2 linked regions of the Homo sapiens genome follow. The protein of the gene in region 1 purifies or fractionates together with the protein of each later gene. This does not show direct contact. Each region holds a gene or a part of one and is shown on either strand. Other genes may lie near its edges.

Region 1 (3,813 bases):
AGTAGAACTTAATCTCACTGAAGCTTTTCCTCCCACCTTTCAAGCAAAAGCCTTTCTGAAGGTAGAAAACAATAAGAGATAACCTTTAACTGCCCTTTTGAAAATTTATCAGTCTTAAATACTAATATTAATCATTGGAAAGTCTGATTTGCATATATTCTGTAAATCTAAGTGTTGACTAAAATGAGCCATACCTGTTCATCTCAATCATGAGTTTCCTTTAGCTTCACGTTTCTTTTTGTTTGTTTGTTTGTTTTTTCGTTTTGCGACAGAGTCTCACTCTGTCGCCTATGCTGGAGTGCAGTGGCGTGATCTCAGCTCACTGCAACCTCTGCTGCCAAGGTTCAAGTGATTATCCTGCCTCAGCCTCCCGAGTAGCTGGGATTACAGGTGCCTGCCACCGCACCCAGCTAATTTTTGTAGTTTTAGTAGAGACAGAGTTTCACTATGTTGGCCAGGCTGGTCCTGAACTCCTGACCTAGAGATCCACCTGCCTCGGCCTCCCAAAGTGCTGGGATCACAGGCGTGAGCCACTGGGCCCGGCCAGCTTCCCATTTTTAAAAATCAAAGTAAGAAGTAATTTGTTTAAAAAATATGTTGTTATTTCAGTGCTCTTTCCCCATGGTACTTTGAGGAATTAAAATGTATTTAAGTGTCAATTAGATTCCTAGAATTGCCCTAGACCTGCTGTGTATACAGTATTCTACTTAATGTAAGACCTCATGGATTGTGTGATACCCTACTATTTTCTATATTAATAAGATGATTTTTAAATGCTACCAATTATAAATGCTACCATATAAAAATTATGAATTATAAATACCACTCCAATATCAGATATGCTAAAATGTGACCTAATCTTTAAATCATCCTGCAAAATAGCAATAATTGTATCATTTTACTTAATTAAAATATTTTTGTTAAATACTAGTAATATAATTATAACATCTGGCTGAGTGCATGGCTCACACCTGTCATTCCAGAACTTTGGAAGGCTGAGGTGGGAAGTTCCCATGATGCTAGGAGTTTGAGACCAGCCTGGGCAACAAGGTGACATTCCTACTCTACAAAAAAAAATTTAAAAATTAGCTGATCATGCTGGTGCACTCCTGTGGTCCCAGCTATTCAGGAGGCTGGGGCAGGAGGTTTGCTTGAGCCTACAAGTGCCAGGCTGCAGTGAGGTATAAATACACCATTGCACTCCAGCCTGGGCAACAGAGCAAGACCGTGTCTCAACAAACAAAAGTCTAACAGTTATTGAGTTGTTGCTTGTTCTGGAAACAGTTCTAAATGCTTTACATAGATTTTCATTTAAGCATCACAGTGGTGTCCTGTGAGCTAGCTGCTGTGGTCATCTTTATTAATGAGGAAATTCAGGCACAGAAAGGCTAAGCAATAGCTGGTACGTGACCGAGTTCAAAGTAGAACTCAAGCCCTAGTTAAGCTGAATCCAAACACCAAGCTCATTCTATCCAAATAGGCTGCTGTTTCATTAAGGTAGGGAGCAGTAAGAGCTAATAAATATTGTACTTTCTTCAAAAGAAAATTATTTGTTTTGAAGGCAGAGGAATAATGCCATTCAATGTTTACAATGACATGGACCATTGTAGGTTTTGAGATATTGCACTACATTTCCTGAAAACCCCTCTCGCTCTCCTAGGACTGTTCTACATTTGGCCTGTGCCCATGGCCGTGTGCAAGTGGTCACTCTCTTGCTGCACAGAAGATGCCAGATCGACATCTGTGACAGACTAAACAGGACACCTTTAATGAAGGTATATAGTAGCCAACTCTTTCAGCATGAAATGGATTTGATTTAAATACATAGAATTAAAATGAATTTGTCTCATTTAAATATAGCTAGTTGGTGAAACCTGTGGAATATGTATTTTGAATTCTTAGAATTTATAGTCTAGTTTTTTATCTAACACTAATAGGCTGTACACAGCCAGGAAGAGGCTTGTGCCATCGTTCTCCTGGAATGTGGCGCCAATCCAAACATTGAGGATATCTACGGCAACACTGCTCTCCATTATGCCGTGTATAATAAGGGGACTTCACTGGCAGAAAGACTGCTTTCCCACCATGCAAATATTGAAGCACTAAACAAGGTACAGATCAATCAACTTTCTTTTCAAAATGTTTGTTTTAATATTGACATAGTTAAGAGTCAATTTTTCATATTTGGAACTCAAGTATTCCTGAATGAAAATGTCTTGAAATAATTGTCTAAAATTTTACTTTAAATATTGATACTTTTAAAGAAGCATTAGAGGGCACAGCTATTTTAGTGCACGTATGGGAAGTATTTGTGAATTTGTTAAGGTAAAACTTCTTCTTTTCAAGTATTTGTTTCCTACCCCAGGTGTATTTTTTTTCTAATTAGTGTAAAAACAGCACAGGGAAAAAATTACCCTGGAAATAGGCTTTATCTTAAAACTCAAAACTAAAGCAACTTACAATAAATGGAAGTCTTGCTGCTGCTGACGGTTTTCTAACAAAATGGATGTATCTTTCATGGGCAAGGTTTAACAGGGAAAAATAGAAAGGGAAAAGGAGAGCAATCAAAAACATGCAGGTCACTTGGAAATTAGGTAATGAGGGAAAATGCCAAGAAGAGGTTTTGTTTTTTAGTTTGTTGTTTTTCCAGTTTATGTATTGAGACAAAGCGCTCTTCAGCTTTGGGGTAATCATTTTTGGTTTGGTAAAAAGAGTGACCGAAACTTGCCTAAAGATTAATTTTTAGAGGACTCTGAGGAAACCAGATTGGCAGTGAATATACGGTGATGAAGTGAGAAACACTTCAGCAAAGGGTGGAACAAATTAGTAACTGACTTATTACCCATCCCGGCAAAAACAGCAACTTAGATAAGAGTCTAAACTCTCCTTTCAAATCTAGAATATCTTGATGAGAAGGTGGGAGATAAGCAGCTTATAAATAGCAAAATCAACTGGGATTTTGAGTTTACTTGTCCCTGATATACCCACACCCAGGAAAATTAACTGGAATTTTAATACATAACTCTATCTCATACTCCTCTCTGGCCACATCCCAAGCTGATAAAGGATATTGGCCATGTGGGTGAGAGATGAAACTGAAGTGATTGTCTGCTGCAGTAATTCTCAGCTAGAATTGTGCATTACAATGACCTGGGGAAATTTTGTTAAAAGTCTACAAGTGTAGGCTTTCCCCTGAGGATTTTGATGTAATAGATCTAATAAGTTCTGAACATGTATGGTTAAAAATATTTTCTTGAAGCCATGCACTGTGGCATGTTCCTGTAGTCCCAGCTACTCAGGAGGCTGAGGTGGGAGGATTGCTTGAGCCTAGGAGTTTAAGTCCAGCCTGAGGCGGGCAGATCACGAGGTCAGGAGATGGAGACCATCCTGGCTAACATGGTGAAACCCCGTCTCTACTAAAAATACATAGTAAGACTCTTGTCTCTTACCACAACAAGAGCAAAAAAAAAAAAAAAAAAAAAAAACCTCAGTGTTCGAATACACTCCTGATTAAGAAGCACAGAATAGATAAGTGCAGGATATAAATTCCTGTATGTCAAAGACATAAGAAATCTCTAAAAGAGTTGGCATTCGATAGGTGCTACTTTCTTCAAAGTTTTCTTTTCCAATAACATTAAACTGACTTATCTGTCTTTCTCTACATTTGTGACTGGGAAGTGAAAGGGAATATCATTGGCAATATCGCTCAGCTTACAGAATAACACTTTTTGCTTCCCACCATGAATCACTCACTGCCATTCAGACAGTCTTTAGCAATTTACTTGTGGGTAATCTTTCAATAAGTAGAGACTG
Region 2 (3,813 bases), on another chromosome or scaffold:
GAACGGAAAACCCACCTTGTCAAATGATTCAAATTCTATATATGGACATTGTGAATGTTGAGAAAACAAGAAAGGATGAAATTCCTCATACCTGTAAAACATATTTATTATATCACATTCGAGAACATTAACAAACATCCAAAGCAAATTGACCCATGCCTATATGCTTACGTCAGTATGTCTTCAACTGGTTTATCTGCTTCCAAGCTTGGTTTTATTTCTCTTTTCTGAATGATATATCCCTACAAAAATGCAACATTAAAATCATTCCTATTCATAATTAACAAAGATTTACTTCTTTTTTTTTTTTTTGATACAGTCGCGCTCGCTCCATCACCCAGGCTGGAGTGCAGTGGTATATTCTCGGCTCACTGCAACCTCTGCCTCCCGGGTTCAAGCAATTCTCATGCCTCAGCCTCCCAAGTAGCTGGGATTACAGGTGTGTGCCACCATACCTGGCTAATTTTTGTATTTTTAGTAGAGACAGGGGTTTTGCCATGATGGCCAGGGTGGTGTCGAACTCTTGGTCTCAAGTGATCCGCCCACCTTGGCCTCCAAAAGTGCTGAGATCACAGGTGTGAGCCACTGCACCTAAAAATTTAGTTTCTGTGACTGATATTAATTTGCACCTAATCCAAAGGTTTACTTTCTATGACTGATATTAATTTTAATTTTCTATAAATAGTTATGCTTTGAAAAGGGAAGAAAAACACTCATAAGCTACTAGGTAATTCAAAAAATATTTAATGGTTGGGAGCTGTAAATCACAACATTTTTGAAAAGGGCTGACAAATGAAAATGTGCTTCTCTATCTGAAACTAAAGAAATAACTGTAAATTCCTCAACTTTTCTGAAGAGCCGATACTAACCTGACATTGTACTTTCTATAAAAGATAGGGAACAGAAAAAAACTTATAAACCAACAAAAACTTTTAAAACACTATCCTGGGCCGGGTGCAGTGGCCCATGTCTATAATCCCAGCACTTTGGGAGGCCAAGGCAGGCGGATCACTTGAGGTCAGGAGTTCGAGACCAGCCTGGCCAACACGGTGAAACCTCATCTCTACTGAAAATATAAAAACTGTCCAGGCATGGTGGCACGTGCCTGTAGTCCCAGCTACTCGGGAGGCTGAGACAGGAGAATCACTTCAACCAGGGAAGCAGAGGTTGCAATGAGCCAAGATCATGCCACTGCACTCCAGCCTGGGTAACAGAGCAAGACTGTCTCAAAAAACAAAACAAAAAAACTATCCTGGAATAAGCATATTACAGATAACAATTTTCCAAATTAAAATAAAATGTATATATAATGATCCTTTAATGAACGTTTAATTTCTGAAAACCCAAATAAATCACAACAATATATAGTAAGTATACATGGTGCTACCTTCCCACTGAAGTTGGATGTTGTTTTCATATAGTCTTCTGCTTTCTGCAGAGAAACAAGTACTTTTTCAATATCTAATGGTGGGGGAAAAAAAGGAAAAAAGGAGTGCCAATCAAGTGTCAATTAACCGTGGCTAAACAACTATGTAGAAAAACAGGAAAGTGCTTACAAAATAATGTTGCGTTCAAGAAAATTAGAGATAGTGATTTCATGTTTATAACCAGTATATGTGGATATATGGTTTCATTTTGAACAGCCTGTTGTCCAAGTAGCTTTTATTGAATCATCCACCTTTCCCTCCATGACCTGAAAGGAACTTTGTTCATAAACTAAATTCCCATATTATTTCAAATTATTTTTGGAATCTTTATGCTATTCCTTCTCCAAAAACTTACAGTTTTAATTACTATAGCTTCATATTTTAATCTGTGAAGGGTTACACAGACAGTAATAAATCATTACTAGTATTTTCCAGAGTTATCCTGAACATTTTCACATGCTTTTGCTCCATATAAACATCAGAGTCATTTTATAAAAACAAACAAAAACAAAACACCACCACCAGCACCTGTTGTCATTTTATGAGTGCACTGATTTAGTATATTGCAGAAACTAAAACATTCACTAAAATCTCATTCAATTTTTTTTTTTGAGAGTGGTGATACTTGTTTTTGTGGGGTTTTTTGAGATGGGGGTCTCACTCTGTTGCTCAGGCTGGAGTGCAGCTGTGCAGTCACCACCCACTGCAGCCTCAAACACCCAGGCTTAAGTGATCCTCCCACCTTAGCCTCCCAAAGTGCTGGGATTGCAGGCATGAGCCAGTGTGCCTGGTCAAATGTTTTTCATTCTAGAACCACCTGCTCCCTTATTACTTTCCCAGAAAAAATTTTCATAGTTTAAAAAAAATGAAATAAATGAAAAATGTACCATGCAGACATACCTTTAGTTTCAAGTTTTTCATCCACTTTGACATTACCCGAGAATCCATTTTCTAAAAGACAGTGTTCAATGAGAGCTGGTCCATAGGCTATAAATGCAGAGGATATTACTTTTAGTATTTTCCTATAAATTCTTTTTTGTTTTTGTTTTTTGAGATGGAGTTTTACCCGTCGCCCAGGCCGGAGTGCAATGGTGCAATCTTGGCTCACTGCAACCTCTGCCTCCCACCTCCTGCCTCAGCCTCCTGAGTAGCTGGGATCACAAGCACCCACCACCATGCCCAGCTAATTTTTGTATTTTTAGTAGGGACAAGGTTTCACCATGTTGTCCAGGCTGGTCTCGAACTCCTAACCTCAGGTGATCCACTCACCTCAACCTCCAAAAGTGCTCAGATTACAGGTGTGGGCCACCATGACCTAGCCTAAAATTTAACATTCAAAATATAGCACAAATTTATTTCCCAATATCAATGATCTACTCAATAACAGTGGCTGGTGAAAACAATAAGTTTACTTATTTTGAAGTGTTACTTAGAAATGACAATTCTAGTTCTTAGACTGGGTGCGGTGGCTCATGCCTATAATCCCGGCACTTTGGGAGGCCAAGGCAGGCAGATCACCTGAGGTCGGGAGTTGGAGACCAGCCTGACCAACATGGAGAAACCCCATCTCTACTAAGAATACAATAAATTAGCCAGGCGTGGTGGCACATGCCTGTAATCCCAGCTACTCAGGAGGCTGAGGCAGGAGAATCACTTGAACCCGGGAGGCGGAGGCTGTGGCGAGCCAAGATCGTGCCATTGCACTGCAGCCTGGGCAACAAGAGTGAAACTCCGTCCCCCGCCCCACCCCGCAACCAAAAAAAAAAAAAAAAATGACAATTCTAGTCCTTAAAGAAATTTGAAACTACAATTAACTTACAAAAGTCAGTGCAAGTTATAGGAATTTAATGGGCTTCAACCACAATGAGGATTTATCCCTGGAATGCAAGGTTGGTTTGGCAACCAAAAATTGGTTAATATAATACTCCATATTGATAAAATAAAGGAAAAGAGCCATATATCATTTCAATAGATGCAGAAAAAGCATTTGACAAAATTCAACACTAATTCCTAATAAAAACTCTCAATAAACTAGGAATAGAGGGAGCATTCTCAACCTTATAAGGACACCTATGAAAAACCTACAGCTAACATGATAATTACTGGTGAAGGACTGAATATTATCCCCCTAAGATCAGGAACAAGGAAAGAATATTCAGTCTCACACTGCTATTCAACATTGTACTGGAAGCTATAGCTAGCACAATAAGGCAAATTAATTAATAGCATTCAGATTCTAAAGGAAGAAGTAAAGCATCCTTATTCACAGATGACATGATCCTGTACCTTAAAAAATCCTAAGGAACCCACAAAAAAACCCTACTAGAATGAATAAACAAGTTTATCAGGTTTGCAGGATACAAAAACCAATATATAGAAATCAATT

Evidence for each region. The genes of interacting proteins can lie anywhere in the genome.
Region 2: the proteins of ANKRD18A (region 1) and NEMF purify together in Homo sapiens (affinity purification with mass spectrometry; one large-scale study listed by BioGRID and IntAct). This does not show direct contact.

The regions. Positions count from the first base shown.
Region 1 is NC_000009.12:38,613,892-38,617,704, reverse strand, and holds part of ANKRD18A (ankyrin repeat domain-containing protein 18A), read left to right. Parts: intron 1-1,660; coding exon 1,661-1,775; intron 1,776-1,937; coding exon 1,938-2,111; intron 2,112-3,813.
Region 2 is NC_000014.9:49,832,036-49,835,848, forward strand, and holds part of NEMF (ribosome quality control complex subunit NEMF), read right to left. Parts: intron 2,415-3,813; coding exon 2,328-2,414; intron 1,462-2,327; coding exon 1,388-1,461; intron 243-1,387; coding exon 172-242; intron 92-171; coding exon 16-91; intron 1-15. UniProt on the Homo sapiens protein: Key component of the ribosome quality control complex (RQC), a ribosome-associated complex that mediates the extraction of incompletely synthesized nascent chains from stalled ribosomes as well as their ubiquitin-mediated proteasomal degradation.